Regions from separate parts of the Homo sapiens genome. Here region 1 is linked to region 2. Evidence: fine-mapped expression QTL. Tissue or cell type: testis. Region 2 holds a variant in brackets; the other region holds the start of a gene. All regions are shown on one strand. Distances are from middle to middle.

The links. PIP is the estimated chance that this variant, and not a neighbour inherited with it, causes the effect.
Region 1: UQCRC2 starts here. The variant in region 2 is fine-mapped to the expression of UQCRC2 in testis (GTEx, PIP above 0.99). The same link has a PIP of 0.9 or more in nucleus accumbens.

What each region holds. Positions count from the first base shown.
Region 1 is chr16:21,949,532-21,957,623 of GRCh38, reverse strand. It overlaps UQCRC2 (ubiquinol-cytochrome c reductase core protein 2), which reads right to left and starts at 4,263. Exons shown (of 14, transcript NM_003366.4): 1 at 4,168-4,263; 2 at 306-389; 3 at 58-207. The coding sequence starts at 4,200. It also overlaps a transcript of PDZD9 not described here. RefSeq lists enhancers at 3,921-3,970, 3,981-4,150, 3,665-4,382, 4,471-4,930.
Region 2 is chr16:22,187,213-22,195,318 of GRCh38, reverse strand. It overlaps SDR42E2 (short chain dehydrogenase/reductase family 42E, member 2), which reads right to left. Exons shown (of 13, transcript NM_001394319.2): 13 at 3,568-5,180. The coding sequence ends at 4,926. LOC124903666 (a long non-coding RNA gene) reads left to right here and starts at 7,307. Exons shown (of 2, transcript XR_007065028.1): 1 at 7,307-7,348. RefSeq lists enhancers at 1-21, 3,613-3,672, 4,173-4,252, 4,508-5,007 and silencers at 4,713-4,812, 4,953-5,002, 5,093-5,182. The variant C/T (reference allele first, on the strand shown) is at 4,956.

The DNA.
Region 1 (8,092 bases), 240 kb after region 2:
TCACAGGACCAAGATACCACAGCATTTCCAAACACTTGAGGAAGTGAAGATACTCACCAGACTGGATGTAAGACGCAGCAAATGGGTGGTTCCTAAATTGCTGAAGTCCTCATATCTACTGCCTGCTTTAATGAACAAACCAATTCTTGATACAGGAGAATAGTTTTCCAAAGAAGCAATCACCAAGCCATTTGGTAACTTGGTAAACTGTATTTAAAATAAAGTAGAGATATAATGAATGTCTTCGTATTACCAAGGAGAGTAAGGCATGTATAGCTTCCAGCGAGCAAGTTAGTGGGACTAACCTCAAGGTCCTGAGGTTGTGGCGGTGCTCCTGCAGGCGCAGCTGTGGCTTTAACTTTGGGGGCAACTTTGAGGGAATAAAATCTCTAAACATAAAAAACACAGGTTACACGTATTTCTCACAAGAACAGTGCTTTATATAAAAGCATGGTATCTTAGGGTACCCAAGCGACAGAGGGTGTTCGGGGGTGGAAGGAGCAATAACCACCTCCATGGGAGGATTTACCTGCATAACATTTTTTTTTTTTTTTTGAGACAGAGTGTCTCTCTGTCGCTCAGGCTGGAGTGCAGTGGCGCAATCTCAGCTCACTGCAACCTCTACCTCCTGGGTTCAAGCCATTCTCCTGCCTTAGCCTCCCAAATAGCTGGAATTACAGGTGCGTGCCACCATGTCCAGCTAGTTTTTGTTTTGTATTTTTTAGTAGAGATGGGGTTTCACTGTGTTGGCCAAGCTGGTCTTGAACTCCTGATCTTAAGTGATCTGCCCACCTTGGTCTCCCAAAGTGTTGGAATTACAGGCGTGAGCCACTGCACCCCGCCTAGCTGCATAACTTATTATGGACTTACTAACCCACCAGTTTACCCAAGCCATTCTTAAACCTCTATTTATTAGTGATTTATAGAGTTCTTGATGCTTATTTTTTAAATGATGTAAAGAATCACTGTATTTTCTTATCTTTCAGTTACCTTATAAAAGTTTCATGGTTCTGTGTAGTTCTAAAGCTTTGGCATTTTTTGAAAAAGTGTCAGATCACCCCATCCACAACCTTTTTTGTTGAGTTGGAGTCGTGCTCTGTGTCCCACGCTGGAGTGCAACAGTGCGATCTCGGGTCATTGCAATGTCTGCCTCCTGGATTCAAGCGATTCTCCTGTCTCAGCCTCCCAAGTAGCTGGGATTACAGGTACATGCTGCCACGCCTGGCTAATTTTTTGTATTTTAGTAGAGATGGCGTTTCACCCCATAGCTCAGGCTGGTCTCAAACTCCTGAGCTCAGGCAATCCACCCGCCTCGGCCTCACAAAGTGCTAGAATTACAGGTGGGAGCCACCACACCTGGCCTGTGTCCACAACCTTTTATAGGTTTCAGCTTCTTGCTTCTTTTATCTGCCCAATGAATGTCATCCGTTCAGTCTAATTTCCAATTGAAATGGTTTCATCTCCTTAATCATCTTAGTAACCTTTAAAAAAGACAAACTAGCCGGGTGCGGTGGCTCACGCCTGTAATCCCAGCACTTTGGGAGGCCAAGGTGGGCGGATCACCTGAGGTCAGGAGCTCGAGACTAGCCTGACAAACATGGAGAAACCCCATCTCTAATAAAAACACAAAATAAGCGGGGCGTGGTGATGCATGCCTGTAATCCCAGCTACTGGGGAGGCTGAGGCAGGAGAATCACTTGAATCCGGGAGGCGGAGGTTGCAGTGAGCCGAGATTGTGCCATTGCAGTCTAGCCTGGGCAACAAGAGCAAAACTCCGTCTCAAGAAAAAAAAAAGAAAAAGACAAAGTATATACCAACTTCCTCCAAGCCCTCAATATTTTCCATTGTATCTTCACTCTTGTGTGCTGTATTAAGACCACACAACCAAAGGTCTTAGTTTTTTTGACTAAATAAAACATTTATGACATGTATGTCATCCTGAGATTAATAATGGCTTCATCCACATCAGATTCTCAATATATAAAATGCAGTTACTGGTAGGGTGAAAGGGTCCCATTAAATATTAGATAATGGACCCAAAATGCATTCATTTTATTCAGTTTGTTTTGGCAAATGTTATACAATGCCATACAAATCATTCTGATTATGACTAAAGTTCATGAGGTTATTAGAGGAGATGATGAGTGAATAAAATTTGGTGCTCCCAAGACCCAATGAACACCTCCTCACTGGAGTTTCCCGGACATCCCTGCACAGTCTGCAATGCCTCCACTCTGTGCTGTCCAGAAGGCTGTTTGTTGTACATCATTAGTGCTGTACTAGGTTGGCTGCTGGTTATCACTTGCTTTTAGTACTGCTTTTCAGTTATGAATTACAATTAGCTTTACTTTATCGTCATCAATTTAGTTTGCTGGGTATGGTATAGTTAACCTTCTTTGTAATTTTGGCCTATAATTTTCCAAAAAGTAAACTTTTAAGATATATGGGCATAGCAATTCAAATATGAATAATCTATAATTCCGTTACCAAGTGAGATTTTAGGTGTTTTCCAACCAAATGTGCCCAAATAGTAACTCTTTGTTGGTAATTTTTTTTTTTTTTTTTTTTTGAGACGGAGTCTCGCTCTGTCGTCTAGGCTGGAGTGCAGCGGTGCGATCTCGGCTCACTGCAACCTCCGCCTCCTGGGTTCAAGAGATTCTCCTGCCTCAGCCTCCTGAGTAGCTGGGATTAGAGGCGCCCACCACCACCACGCCCGGCTATTTTTTTTTTTTTTGTATTTTTAGTAGAGACGGGGTTTCACCATGATGGCCAGACTGGTTTCGAACTCCTCATCTCAAGTGATCCGCCTGCCTCTGACTCCCAAAGTGCTAGGATTACAGGTGTGAGCCATCGCGCTCCGCCGGTAATGTGCTTCTTAATCGTCCCATTCAAATCAGCAAATTATCCTAGTAACTGTCATGCAATCTTCTAAATTATTTTGTTCTAATAACAAGATATATCTAAGTTTATTCTCCTATATAAAGTGCTAAAATTAGACACATAAATAATTGCTTTCAAGTTTACTGCAATTTGTTTACTTTGGGCCTCTCCAACTGTTTTCTCTGAGCTTTTTCTGTTGCAAAATAGAATGGAGAAGGAAATGTTGGGGTCTTTTGCCAATCTAACCGTGCTTCCCTCCAAGGGTAATCACTGGTGTGTCTAGGTATACCTGGAAGGTTAATGCAATTACAGCCTAAATCGATATAGCCCACAGCACATTTATGTAAACATAAAGCATAAGAACATTCCATGCCCAGGTCTGGTCTTCTGCATCTCCATCTAGGGGGGTTTCTCAACACAGGTACTACTACTGGCACTTGGGGCTAGATAATTCTTTGCTGTAAGGCGAAGTTTAGCAGCATCCCTGGCCTCTCCATGCCAATAGCACCCTCCTTACAAGTTGTTGCAACTAAATATGTCTCCAAACATCGCCACCGGTTCCCTGGGGGCATTCTGTCCCTCGCTATGATTTTTTAAGTGTTCCCCCTTACCCCTCTTAATAACCACTGTCCCACAGTGATATAACCCTGATGTGTGAGTTTTCCCCAAGTGACAGCTATGTTTAATTTAGGCTTGAAGGGGAAACTTAATTAAGGAGCTTTTGAGGACAAACAGAGACGTCTTGGAGGAACCGTCTAACATACGATCAAGAAAAGCAACGTTAGACTACTAAGACACCATAGTATTTAACAATGAAGTTCCAGGTACTGTAATAAGTGTTCTATCTGCATTAGCTCCTTTCTTATACTTTTATTCGCTGGGGAAACTGACGCTCCGTGATAAACCAAGGAGCAGAGGCTGCAGCGGATAAAGTGAAGGTGGGGGGCTAAGTGCGCCGTCCTCCCGCTCCCCCTGGGTTTCACGGTCTCTTTCTCCAGCACTTGAGTACCGGAGTGACCTTCAGAAGTCTCTCCAAGGACTCGCTTCAACTCCGCTCTCACGTCCTGCCCCTCTCTTCAGGTTTCCCGGTGTTAGGTCTCTTGTGCTCACAGCATGAGCTGGGCCTCCAAAGCCTGACCCAGTCTGCAGCCCACTTGGCCCGCAGGGTTCAGCTGAAGGGCAGACCGAATCCCAAGGCCCAGACCCCAGACCAGACACCTCCGCCTCGTATCACCTTGTCGACACACTGCTCCCCAGCCCTTTCCCAAACCCGCCACCTGAGCTCACCGAGAAAGAGCCGGCTCTGGTTAGTAGCTTCATGATTCAAGATTGTTCTGACACACGGTCACTGCCGGATTAAAGGAAAGCAAGATGGTGGCGGAGGCCGGGAGTTTCCCAGCGTTCCCCGCTAACACTTTCCCACGTCCCCTTCGTGAGGTACTCTCTATACTGCCGCGCTCTACTGCTCTCTTTATAAGGTTGGACCAGTCCAATTCCTCCAAGACTCAGAATAGGGAGACGCACAATTTCCCAAGTAAATATATGCAGAGAATAATGTACGTCACTGCTTTTTGCGTTCTTCTCCTAGCCTGAATATCCAGTATGCACCCCTTTTCTAAGTACGTCTGCAGCAGCCTGTCACAACTCCCCCCGCTATCTTGGGCTCTTCCGCTCAGCATTGTCCAATGGGACGCGCCTCTCTTGGGACTCCGCATGCGCCCTCCGGGATGACACCTGCACTGGAGGCCCTGGGTTTCCGCGTTCCTGGACGTTGGAGGCTTCAGGAGATTCCTGCCACTCCACCTTTCTGCAGAGGTATTGGGTATCGAAGCCCGGCGTAGTTGCCTCTCGCTGGGTGAAGTCCTTACTGGATCTTTAGCTCCGTGAAACAGGGGCCTCGTTCAACGTATTCGCCGCTGTGTCCCCCAGAGCAGGCCCGGGACACACCGGGAGGGTCAGCAACCTCGGGGAATCATCACAAGGCTTTTGGTCTCGTGGAATTTACGTCCTAGGCTGGGGCTACATAGAATATAAAAACTTAGCTATAGTTTTTGTGTTAGGAAAATAGAAATGTTTTGGATAGTAGGTGTGTTATGTGAGCCGAAACCGGCAGTTGGAGAAAGTCAGTCACGTGACGACTTGGGGCGGGGGCGTTCACTCCGGTCCTCAGCGAGTGTTAACCCAGAAAGTGCCTTGAGCTAGGCACTATGCCAACGCGAGAGGCGTGGTCCCTGCCCTTTAGGGACTTTAGAGTTTCGTACCTTGCTACGTTGCTTGGTTGGGAAACCGACAGTATCAGCATCAATATCATTTAGGAGTTGATTAGAAATGTATGAACTCCAGGTCCCATATTGGATCCGAATCGGTGTTTTTACAAGATCCTGGGATGACTTCGTATGCACAATAGTTTCAGAAAGGCTGGTGGTGTAGACGTTACAAGGCATAGGCAAATGTACTTTCTTTTTGCCTTGTGTCTGAATTGCTCCAGGCCTACAACGGACTTGGGCTCTCTAATTAAGATCTGGGCATTAAGAACCTGGCACCAACCCAATTTCTGTGCCTGCTGGGGACGCCCTCAACCCAATTCATACCACACAGTTTCCCCACATGTGGTAGATTTAACACTAGTGGTGCGTGAGATGATTTTAAGTTGGTACATAGATGAACACTTCCATTTTTTCCTTTTAAAAATTTGTATAAATTTAAGGGGCGCAAGTACAGTTATGTTATATGGATATATTGCAGTAATGGTGAAGTCTGGGCTTTTAGTGTACCCATCACCCGAATAATGTACATGGTACCCATTAAGTACTTTCTCATCGTTCACCTCTCTCCCACCCCTCCACCTTTCGGAGTCTCCATTGTCTGTCATTCCACACTCTATGTCCATGTGTACACCTTATTTAGCACTGTTCCATTTTAATAATATATTTATTTTGATTATGGCAAGCAATGCTAGTAGTGAATTTCCTCTTTAAGTACATTTATAAAATAATAAAAGTTGGTGTAAAAACGTTAAGTAACTTGATGATACGGAGATACAGCAAAAATCATGAATGTGTTATACAGGTACCATTGAGTGAAATCTGGGAAGCAGTGCTCTGATCAAGCCACCTGCCTGCTTAAAATTCTTCAACGACAGCCACGTTTTTCAGGATAAAATTCAAATTCATTAACATGGCATACAAAGCTGTCTCCAGTACTTCAAAACCCCAATTCCCAAGTTAGCTAGCTGCACCCCTGAGTCCAATCATTGTAACTTCATCATTCAACAGTTCAGGTCAGGTAGGAGGAACACAAAAGTCTCCACACTCAAGTGCACACACACACACACACACACACACACCCACACCTGCTTATAATGTCCTCTCATTCTTAGGTTATGACCCAATATCAGAAAGGGGCAAAAATAAATTCTGTTCAAAATGTGGCAGGATTTGAAACATAATTCATGATATCAGCTACATAAATCATAAAATCCCAAGTTTGTCAATTGCAAAATGTCCTATTAAGCATTAAGCTACAAATTAGGAGTGCCATCTTGTGGACACATCCACCACTTCCACATCATGTCACCTCCTAGCCAACTCCGTGGCTGTTCTCACTGTGGAGGTCTCTGCCACAACTCCAGCATTTTATTGCAGAAGAAAACCCAGTCCTTGAACTGGTTTCTGCGTAGAACACACTGAAAGCCCTGGGAGAGGAAACCAGCAGACAGGAAAAGAGTAGACATGGAAGAGCAGATGAGTTCATTGCTGGAAAGCTCGAATTGTTAGTTTCGTTAATGTGGGGTCCAATTTGACTCTATGGAGCCTAACTACCTAGCCTGAGCGCTCGCGGTGAGTATGGGGTGGGAGAATGTAAAGAGAAAGCAGGCAACAGTAGGAGTAAAACACACCAGAGGAAGGTGATGTGGGTTTATACTTGGGAACAACATTACCTTGCCATCTTAGGGCCAGAGGCATTAATCATGGCTTCCCCAATGCATAATTTCGATGTTGGCATTTCCTTCCCCATTCCTTTCAGAATCCTACCCTGTCAGGTATTATCTCTGATGAAATATTCCCTGGGCCAGGCACAGTGGCTCATGCCTGTAATCCCAGCACTATGGGAGGCCAAGGTGGGTGGATCACCTGAGGTCAGGAGTTCAAGACCAGCCTGGCCAACGTGGCAAAACCCTGTCTCTACTGAAAAAAAAATACAAAAATTAGCCGGGCATGGTGGCAGTTGACTGAAATCTTAGATACTCGGGAGGCTGAGGCAGGGAGAATTGCTTGAACCTGGGAGGCGGAAGTTGCAGTGAGCCGAGATCACTGCCATTGTACTCCAGCCTAGGCGACACAGCGAGACTCTGTCTCGGGGGGGAAAAAAAAGTTCATATCAATTTCTAATATTCTATAATTATTGTTTTTGGTCACATATACTTTTTCCATGTATTGAGGTGAACAGATTGGTCTTATTCTGTGTTAAGTTATATTGATTGATTCAAATTATAAATAAACCTTTCATTCCTGTTATAAACCCAACTTGGTCTGGATGTTTTATTCTTTTAATATATTGCTAGACCTAATTTGCTACTTATTTGTTTAGGATTTGTGCATTTATGTTCCAGAGTGATACTGGCTTTAACTTTCACTTTCATTCCCCCCATTCATGCATTTTTCTGTCATAGATAAAATGAGTTAGGAAGTGTGAAAGGAAAAAAAATCTCAGGGCCTCCAAATCACTAAGCCAAAGGGAAAATTCAAGCTGGGAATGATGTCAGACAAACCTGCCTCCCGTTTTATTCCTAAATAAGATAGCTATAAGGATAAAAAGCTACATAACTTACCTTACAATTTGCCCACAGGGCAATTCCATGTGGATCTGAGGATCTTTACCCTAAAACAGTTTTGTTGAATTTCACCCTGGCAATGTAAATTGATAGCTGTCTTCCTTCCTTCCTTTCCTTTTCTTCCTTTCCTTTCTCTCTCTCTCTCTGTCTCTCTTTCTCTGTTTCTCTCTCTCCCTCCCTTCCTCCCTCCCTCCTCCCTCTTTTTTTTTTTTTTTTTTTTTTTTTTGGAGAGTTTCACTCTTGTTGCCCAGGCTGGAGTGGAATGGCATGATCTGAGCTCACTACAACCTCCACCTCCTGGTTTCAAGCAGATTTTCCCACCTCAGCCTCCTGAGTAGCTGAGATTACAGGCATGTGCCATGATGCCTGGCTAATTTT
Region 2 (8,106 bases):
CTGGCCTGCTCCGTGTACTTTAGAGGGCTCCAGGGACCCCATAAACCTCTGTTGTCAGGTGACCCTGGAGTAGTAGGGGTCTGGCCCTATGTGGGGGTGCCAACCTTGAGGTCTCTGCTTCATTGATTCACCTCTTACTTGGTTTTCAGGCTTGATTTAGGGGCCTTCATTTATAAACAGTTGTTGAGCTGTTTATGAAGGGCCTACTATGTGCCAGAAACCGTGCTCGTCCTGAGGCTGTGGTGGTGTACAAGGCAGGCATGTTTTTGAACCCATCGACTTTGCAGACATTGTCATTTTAATTAATTACACCTGTGAGGAGTGTTAGGCAGTACAGCATGCTAACCTGGCCCCTGAGAAGCAAGGAAGTGACATTTAGCTGGGGCCTGAAATTGAGATTAGCCAAGTGAAGGCGTGGGAGGGGATTTCCAAGAGGGAACTCCTAAAGAGCCTGGTAAGGCTGAGACGCTGTGAAGGTAATTCAGGGCAGCTGCACAGAGAGTGGAGGTGGAGTATTGGCAATAGGTGAGGCGAAGAGACAGGCAAAGAGGGCCATGAATGCCGAGTTAAGGCTTTGAACTTGGTCCCTTCCCAAGGGCAATGGGAAACCATGGAAGGCTTTTGAGCTAGAGAGTGGCATGTTCCAATTTGGAATTTAGAAAGTTCACTGGTTGGGCACGGTGGCTCACACCTGTAATTCCAGCACTTTGGGAGGCTGAGGCGGGTGGGTCACCTGAGGTTAGGAGTTTGAGACCAGCCTGGCCAACACGGTGAAACCCCGTCTCTACCAAAAATACAAAATTTAGCTGGGCATGGTGGTACGCACCTGTAATCCCAGCTATTTGGGAGGCTGAGACAGGAGAATTGCTTGAACCTGGGAGGCGGAGGTTGCAGTGAGCCGAGATCGCACCACTGCACTCCAGTCTGGGCGATTGAGTGAAACTCCGTGTCAAAAAAAAGAGAAAGAAACAAAGAAACAAAGAAAGAAAAGAAAGTTCCCGCTGGCAGCAGGGACAGGAGGTCCCATTCAATGCCTATTGCAATTGTCTAGGAGAAAGGACAGTGGTTTGTACCACAATAGTGGCCGGGTGCGGGACAGAAGGAGTGAGTCAGGGAGACATTTTAGAGATAGATTTGACAGAATCCACAGATGAGCATGTCGAGAAGAAGAGGATCACGTCAAAAGTGACGCCCAGGATTTGGGCTTGGGTCATTGGATGGCTGGTGGTGCCTCTCCTCTCCTGGGAGGGAACACAAGATAGATGGAAAGCAGGTTTGTGGGAGATGATGACTTCAGTTTGATTTTCATTGAGCTGGAGATTCTTGTGGGATATGGGGTTGAGTAGGAGGTTGGACATAGATTTCTGGAGGTCAAGAGAGCACTCCAAGGAAATGATACAGATTTGGGAGGTATTAGAGACTGAGGCCATGGGAAGGGATGAACTCATCCAGAAAGATCCCACAGAGGGAGAAGAGGGGCCAAGACAGAGACCCGAGAGACATCATCTTAAAGGGAGGGCAGTGGAAGAAAAGCCAGTGAAAGAGATGCGAAAGAGACGGGAAAGGACTGGCCAGCAATATACGTGGAAAACAGGTGTGGTTTCATAGAGACCAAGAAATGCGGATCAAGAAGGAGGGGGCAGTCAACTATGCTGAACACAGCTAAGATAATTGGCAAAATAAAGACGGAAAAATATCTATTAAGATTTATGGACAAGATCATTGATGATCTGAAAGCCATTTTGGAATGGGTTGAGGAGAAGAAATGGAAACATAAGTATGGTCAATTCATCACAAAATTTGATTTTGAAAAGGAGGAGCAAAAGGAACAGTTGTGGGAGGGAAAATGGGGGAATCAAAGGAGGATTTTTTTAAATTTTAAAGATGGGGTCTCACCCTGTTGCCCAGGCTGGAGTGTAGTGGTGCAATCATAGCTTACTGCAGACTCAAACTCCTGGACTCAAGTGATTCTCTTGCCTCAGCCTCCTGGGTGCCACCACACCTGGCTAATTAAAAAAAATTTTTTTTTATGTAGAAGCAGGGTTCTCACCAAATCGCCCAGGGTGGTTTTGAACTCCCGACCTCAAGCAATCCTCCAGCCTTAGCCTCCCAAAATGTTGGGATTACAGGTGTGAGCCACTGTGCCCTGCTGGGAAGATATTTTCAAGATGAGAGAGACTTGAGGATGTTTTAGATGCCTGGCATTGGGTTTACAACTGGGAATAGCTTCAGCACCCATAATGGAAAGCCTATGAGTTTGTCTTGATAATCCCTTCAGATCGACTATGTCACCTTGGGCTGCCCACTGTGACAATTCTGTTTTCTGCATTTGCGATGCTTCTCTTTAGCGTCTCCAAGTAAGCTAGAACCTCCTACTTGCCCTTTCAGAACCTCATGGAGGCTAGTGGTCTGGGCAGTCTCAAAAATTCTTACAGTGATTCAGTTTTCCTGTTGGGTGGGGATGCCACCTCCTTTTCCATTGGATAAAGATGCTTGAAAGGAAAAAAGCTTTTTTGACATAGCGATCCATGTTGTCCCCATGCCCAGGGTTTACACATTCTGCTTCCAGAGTGTTAGGAAATAGATGAGTTGGAGAAATCCAGAAAACAAATAAATTGATTCTTGGCTTTTGGATTTTCAAAAGTAGGTTTGGCACTAGTCAAAAGATCTAGAAAATAACGTGAGCAGTGTGAGATTGTTTTTCCTGCTCGAAGAACAGATTTCCCAGGATTAGCAGGGAGAAGAAAGAGAGGAAGGAAGTGAGTTTGGATGTAAACATGTTATCGAGAGGAAAGGAAGCCCCAGGACCGCCAGCTTCAAATGGTCCGAGGTTTGCGGCTCTGAGAGAACGAGACCAGAGTTCAACCGCAAGCCTTGGCATGGCCAGAGTGTAGAAGAGTAGAAGTTACCACGTGTTGTGTTTAGGCCAGTGGCGGCTTAGGCGGTGCTCCTCCAAATTCCCCCAGCTGTAGAGCAGAAACCCCCACCCTCCTCTGCTCTTTGGAATGAGACAAAGCCCCAGTTTTCGTCATCTATAAAAGGAGAGTAATAAACCCTATTTAAGAGTAGCTGTAAGAATTAAATAAGATCACATAGATGAAAGCTCTTTTACACTGTCAAGCATTAAACAGACATAGGATTATTATTCTTTCAAAAATTATATACACACATAAAATTCAGCCTAGCAGAGAGGAGCATACATTTTTTTTTAGCTCCTTCCCAAACTGCTCACCTTGTTCAGCAGAGTGGGACACACACTGCGGTGGCCATGTTGGTTCTGATGAGCCCTTTCGATCCCATCCACCTCAGGCTTGTGGTGCTTTTCTTCTCTGCCAGTCCCACGTGTGCATATTATGATCTATACATGGTTGTATTTACACACTGATGTCTTGGTACTTACAACTGATAACTGATACCAAGATGATAGGAGGCGAAGTTTCTGTGGAGAGCAGGGCTAGATAAAGAAGTTTCGTGACCTTAAACTTTAAAGATTATGGTGATTACCACTACCTCTAATTAATAAATAGAAACAGTACTAAATCATAAAATATAACCAACTAAACTCTATTTTTCCCATTATAGCTTTATTGGTACTTCATCGAGACATCCAATTATTTTAAGAGTTTTTTTTTTTAAATTTTTCATGCTCTTTCTGGTACTAAAACCTGTGCTTACTATGCTGTCATCCTCAGACAGGAACCCAAAAAGGCCAAGTCGGGCTCGGCAGAAGCTTGAGTCTCGGTTTTTCCCCAAACCCTGGCTGTCAACACACAGATCTGTGTGAATGAGAAGCCCAGAACATTGGGTCGGGGTGGATCGAATGCAATGTTACCAGACAGAGCAGCAGCCGACGGCGCAAACTCATACCAACGTCACCCGAGCCTGCGTTAGCCCATAGCGACGCGGCAGCCTGGTTCCGGGGAGAACCTACCCGGGAGGCGGAGCTGGAAAGGGGTGAAGCCAGAGAGGGAGGGGGCGGGGCCAGGACTCAATTACACGCGAGAAGGGCGGGACCGGGTCCAGAGGCAGGAGCAAGGACAGACCCAAAAGGAGAAGCCAAAGGGTGGGCTCAAGCGCGCGGGGAGGACCAGAAAGGGGGCGAAACCAGAATGAGGGAGAATCTGGGGGTGGGCCGGGACTGGGCAGGGACTAGGAGAAGGTCCAGAAGGCGGAGGAAGCTGTGAGCCTTGGCCCATATCAGAAACCGGACAGGCCGGAGGGAGGAAAAAAGGGGCAGGGCCAGGGCCTGGAGGGAGGGTCATGGACGTAGGAAAGATTCAGGGGGCGGGACAGAGGCGTGACCAGGACTCAGAAGGCGTGCCCAAACATGGAAGGGCGGGAAGGGGCGTGGCTATGACATGAAGGCGGGGTTAGGCCTGGAGAGCGGCTCAGGACTAGGCTCTGAAGTCAGGGGGCGGGGAAGAGGCGTGCCCAAGCCGTGAAGCAGGGGCGGGGTTATAAAACGGGGGCGGGGCTAGGTCTGGAGGTCTGCTCAGGGGCTAGGCCAGGAAATCAGTGAGCGGGGAAGAAGGCGTGCCCAATTTGAAGGGCGGGTCAAGGGCGTGGTCAAAACATGGAAAGAGACTCGGGGCTACGCGTCTGGGCCGACCAGGGACGTGGCCAGGATTCAGGGGGCGGAGCAGGAGCGTGCCCACTTCGGAGGGCGGGGCGGGACAGGACAGGGGCGGGGCCAAAACACAGGAAGGGCGCAAGGCAAGGTCTGGGAGTAGATAGGGGCGTGGCCAGAAGTCGGCGGTCCGGGCTAGGTCTGGAGAGCGGCTCGGGGGCGTGACCAGGATTCAAGGGGCGGAGCGGAGGCGCGCTCAAACCCAGAAGGCGGGGCAGGGGCTGGTACAAGCCCAGGGAGCCGGGCGTGGGCGAGGGTGCAGCGGGGCCGACCCTAGCGGGCGGCGGACGGCGGACGGTCACAGGCGCTCCACGGCGGCGTGCAGAGG[C/T]TGCAGGCCTAGGAAGTGCAGGGCCAGGGCGAGCAAGCCGAGGAACAGCAGCAGCCTGAGCAGCAGGCGCAGGAGGGTCCGCGCCGTGGAGCCGCGGGGCCGCCGGGTCGTGGACTGCACGTATAGCTCCACGGCGTCGGCGAACCTAAACTTATCCGGCGCGTAGCCGAGCTGGGCGCGGGCCTTGGCTATCTGGAAGGTGTGCGTCACGGCCACGCTGCGCACCTGCGGGGACAGGCGGGGCATCCGAGGGCGGGCCTCGTGGGAGGAGGACATCCTCTACTTCGTTGTTTACGGAAAGGGAAAAGAGAGGGCAGGGATTTCCCCTCCATTACATAGTGATTTAAAAGGACCCGAGTGCAGCGTCTTGCTCCTGCGATGCCCTCATTAGAGAGGTCTTCCTTTCTTCCTTACATGTTCATTTTTATTGGAGGGTGCCGCCTTTGCGTCGCCCCCTCCAGCCCCGCTGAATTCGCACCCTATTTAACTCCTTGGTCCCTAAGAAGCAAAGGTCTCACCCCTACACTCATCTTCCCGGCCTAGCACGGTGCTGGGACTCAGGAGGCCCTTGATACATTCTTAGGCATCCGCTAGGAGAAGGTGAACGCCTGCCAGAAACATCTGCAGGAAACGACCTTGGCTTCCTGCCCCCAACCCCAGACCAACTGTGACCAGGAGGGCCCCAGTCGCAGCCTTCATGCCCTCGCTTATTAACTAAGCTTCCCTAAGAGAGGAATTCGATTATGCAGAACTGATTGCTCTCCAGGGTCTAAGCTGTGTTTCCCCTGCTGCCAGATGGCTTGGGGCCCACTGGTTTGAAGGGTAGTAATGATAGCTATCAGCAGTTAAGGAACACACACCCTGCATTTGGCCTGGACTAAATCCTTTCTATGCCCTACCTCATTTAATCCTCTCAGGTGGTACTAGCACTATCTGTTCTGTGCATACTTGGAAAAAGGTCAGAGAGGTTGAGTGACTTGCCTGGGGTCGCACAGGGGAGCCAGGTTCTAGCCTAATTTCTTCTCTGCTGTGCTGGCACCTGGAGATGTTCTCCCACCTGACTCATTTCTTCCTCTCTTTTTCCTCAGCCGGACCCTGGGGAAGAATCCACCAGCTGCTGGATTCTCCCATGGCATTGAAACAGCCCCTGGGGTCAAACCTGTGGTCTTGGATGCTTAATGGGGGGTGAGGAGAGAGGCCAGTATTTGTCCCTTTTTTTCCTAGTCAGTAAGTGCAGGGCTTTGGGGAGCACAGGAGTTGAGTTACGCTAGATAAGCAGGGTCCCTAATACACCTAGATGTCTCTAGATGTCACCTCTGGGAAGCTTTCTCTGACTTCCTCAGAGTTGGCTGAGGCGCCCCTTCTGTGTGCACTGGAGTTTCTCGCGATTTTCCCAAGAATGGCTCTAATTACAGTGTTGAGTTGCCTGGTTAGTGGGCTGTCTTCCCCTTTGAACTAGGAGCTCCCTAAGGGCAAGGACTATGTCTTCTTGCCTCCGTTGCTCAGCACAGTGCCTGGTAACATTTATGTTAAATGCATAAAAGGCTATAAAGTCAAACTGGAGGGCTGGTTGATGTGTCACAGATTGACCAGCAGAGGGTACCCGAGCCACAGCCAAGGAACTTCCACAGTTAAGGACATTGCCCCTGAGCTGAACAAGGAAATCCCCAAGTTAAACAAGAGGGAGAGGAGCCAAGTCCCTGCCTGACCACAATTCAGCTGCACCCTGGCAGCTATTTTATGTGGATGTGATTCCTGATGCATTTTCACAAGCTAATGGTTAAGCTTGAAATCACTGAGGTCTGGGTTCAAATCCCAGCTCTACCATTTAAGTGAGTGATCACGGGCAGGTTATTTCACTGTGTGTCTCATTTCCTCCTCTCTAAATGGAGAGGACAATGTTGTCTACAACTCAGTTAAATGAGATAAAGCACAGTGCCTGGCATACTGTCACAACTCAAGAGATTGTCAGTATCATCTTATTCTCTCCTCCACTGATCCGGATGGCTCAAAGGAGAAGCCATAGGTGACTACTTCTTTCTGTGGCCCATTCTCCACTCTCCCCCTCTGACTCCCCTTGTTAAAGAGCACTGAACATGGAGTCTGAAGCCAATTCCAGTATGGTGTGGCCTTGGACAAATAATTTTCCTAGTGCTCAATTTTTCATCATAAAATGGAGATCACGATTTTTTTTTGACCTTTTTAACTTAGCAGGGCATCAGAGACAATAAAACGAGAGTGGACTGGAAGTAATTTTTTTTTTTTTTTTAGATGGAGTCTTGTGCTGTCACCCAGGCTGGAGTACAATGGTGTGGTCTCAGCACACTGCAACCTCCACCTTCCAGGTTCAAGCGACTCTTCTGCCTCAGCATCCCGAGTAGCTGGGACTACAGGTATGTGCCACCACACCCAGCTAATTTTTGTATTTTTAGTAGAGACAGGATTTCACTGCGTTGGCCAGGCTGGTCTCAAACTCCTGACCTCAGGTTATCCACCCGCCTCAGCCTCCCAAAGTGCTGGGAACAAGTGTGAGCCACCGTGCCCGACTGGACTGGAAGGATTTTTGCAAATAACCTCAAATACCACCGATTACTTTGCTATTTACAATCTGTGATGAAAACATCCTCTCTTTTAACTAAGCAAATATAAACCTGCATCATCATTATTATGAGAATAGTATTCTGAGCCAGGCATGGTGGTGCATGCCTGTAATCTCAGCTATTTAGAAGGCTGAGGGGGGAGAATCTTTTTTTTTTTTTTTGGTTTTTAGGGGCAGGATCTCCATCTGTTGCCTAGGCTGGAGTACAGTGGTGCAATCTGCAGCCTTGAACTCCTGGGCTCAAGTAATCCCCCACCTGAGCTGGGACTAAAGGCATGCACCACCTTGCCTGGCTAATTTTAAAATTTTTTGTAGAGATGAGGTCTTGCTATGTTGCCCAGGCTGGTCTCAAACTCCTGGCCTCAAGTGATCCTCCTGTCTCAGCCTCCCAAAGCACTGGGATTATAGGTGCGAGCCACCACACCTGGCCAAGAGGATCTCTTGAGCTCAGGAGTTTGAAACCAGCCTGGACAATATAGTGAGACCCTGTCTCATAAAAATAATTATATTCTGTATGTAGTAGGTACTTAATATATACTCATTATTCAGTAA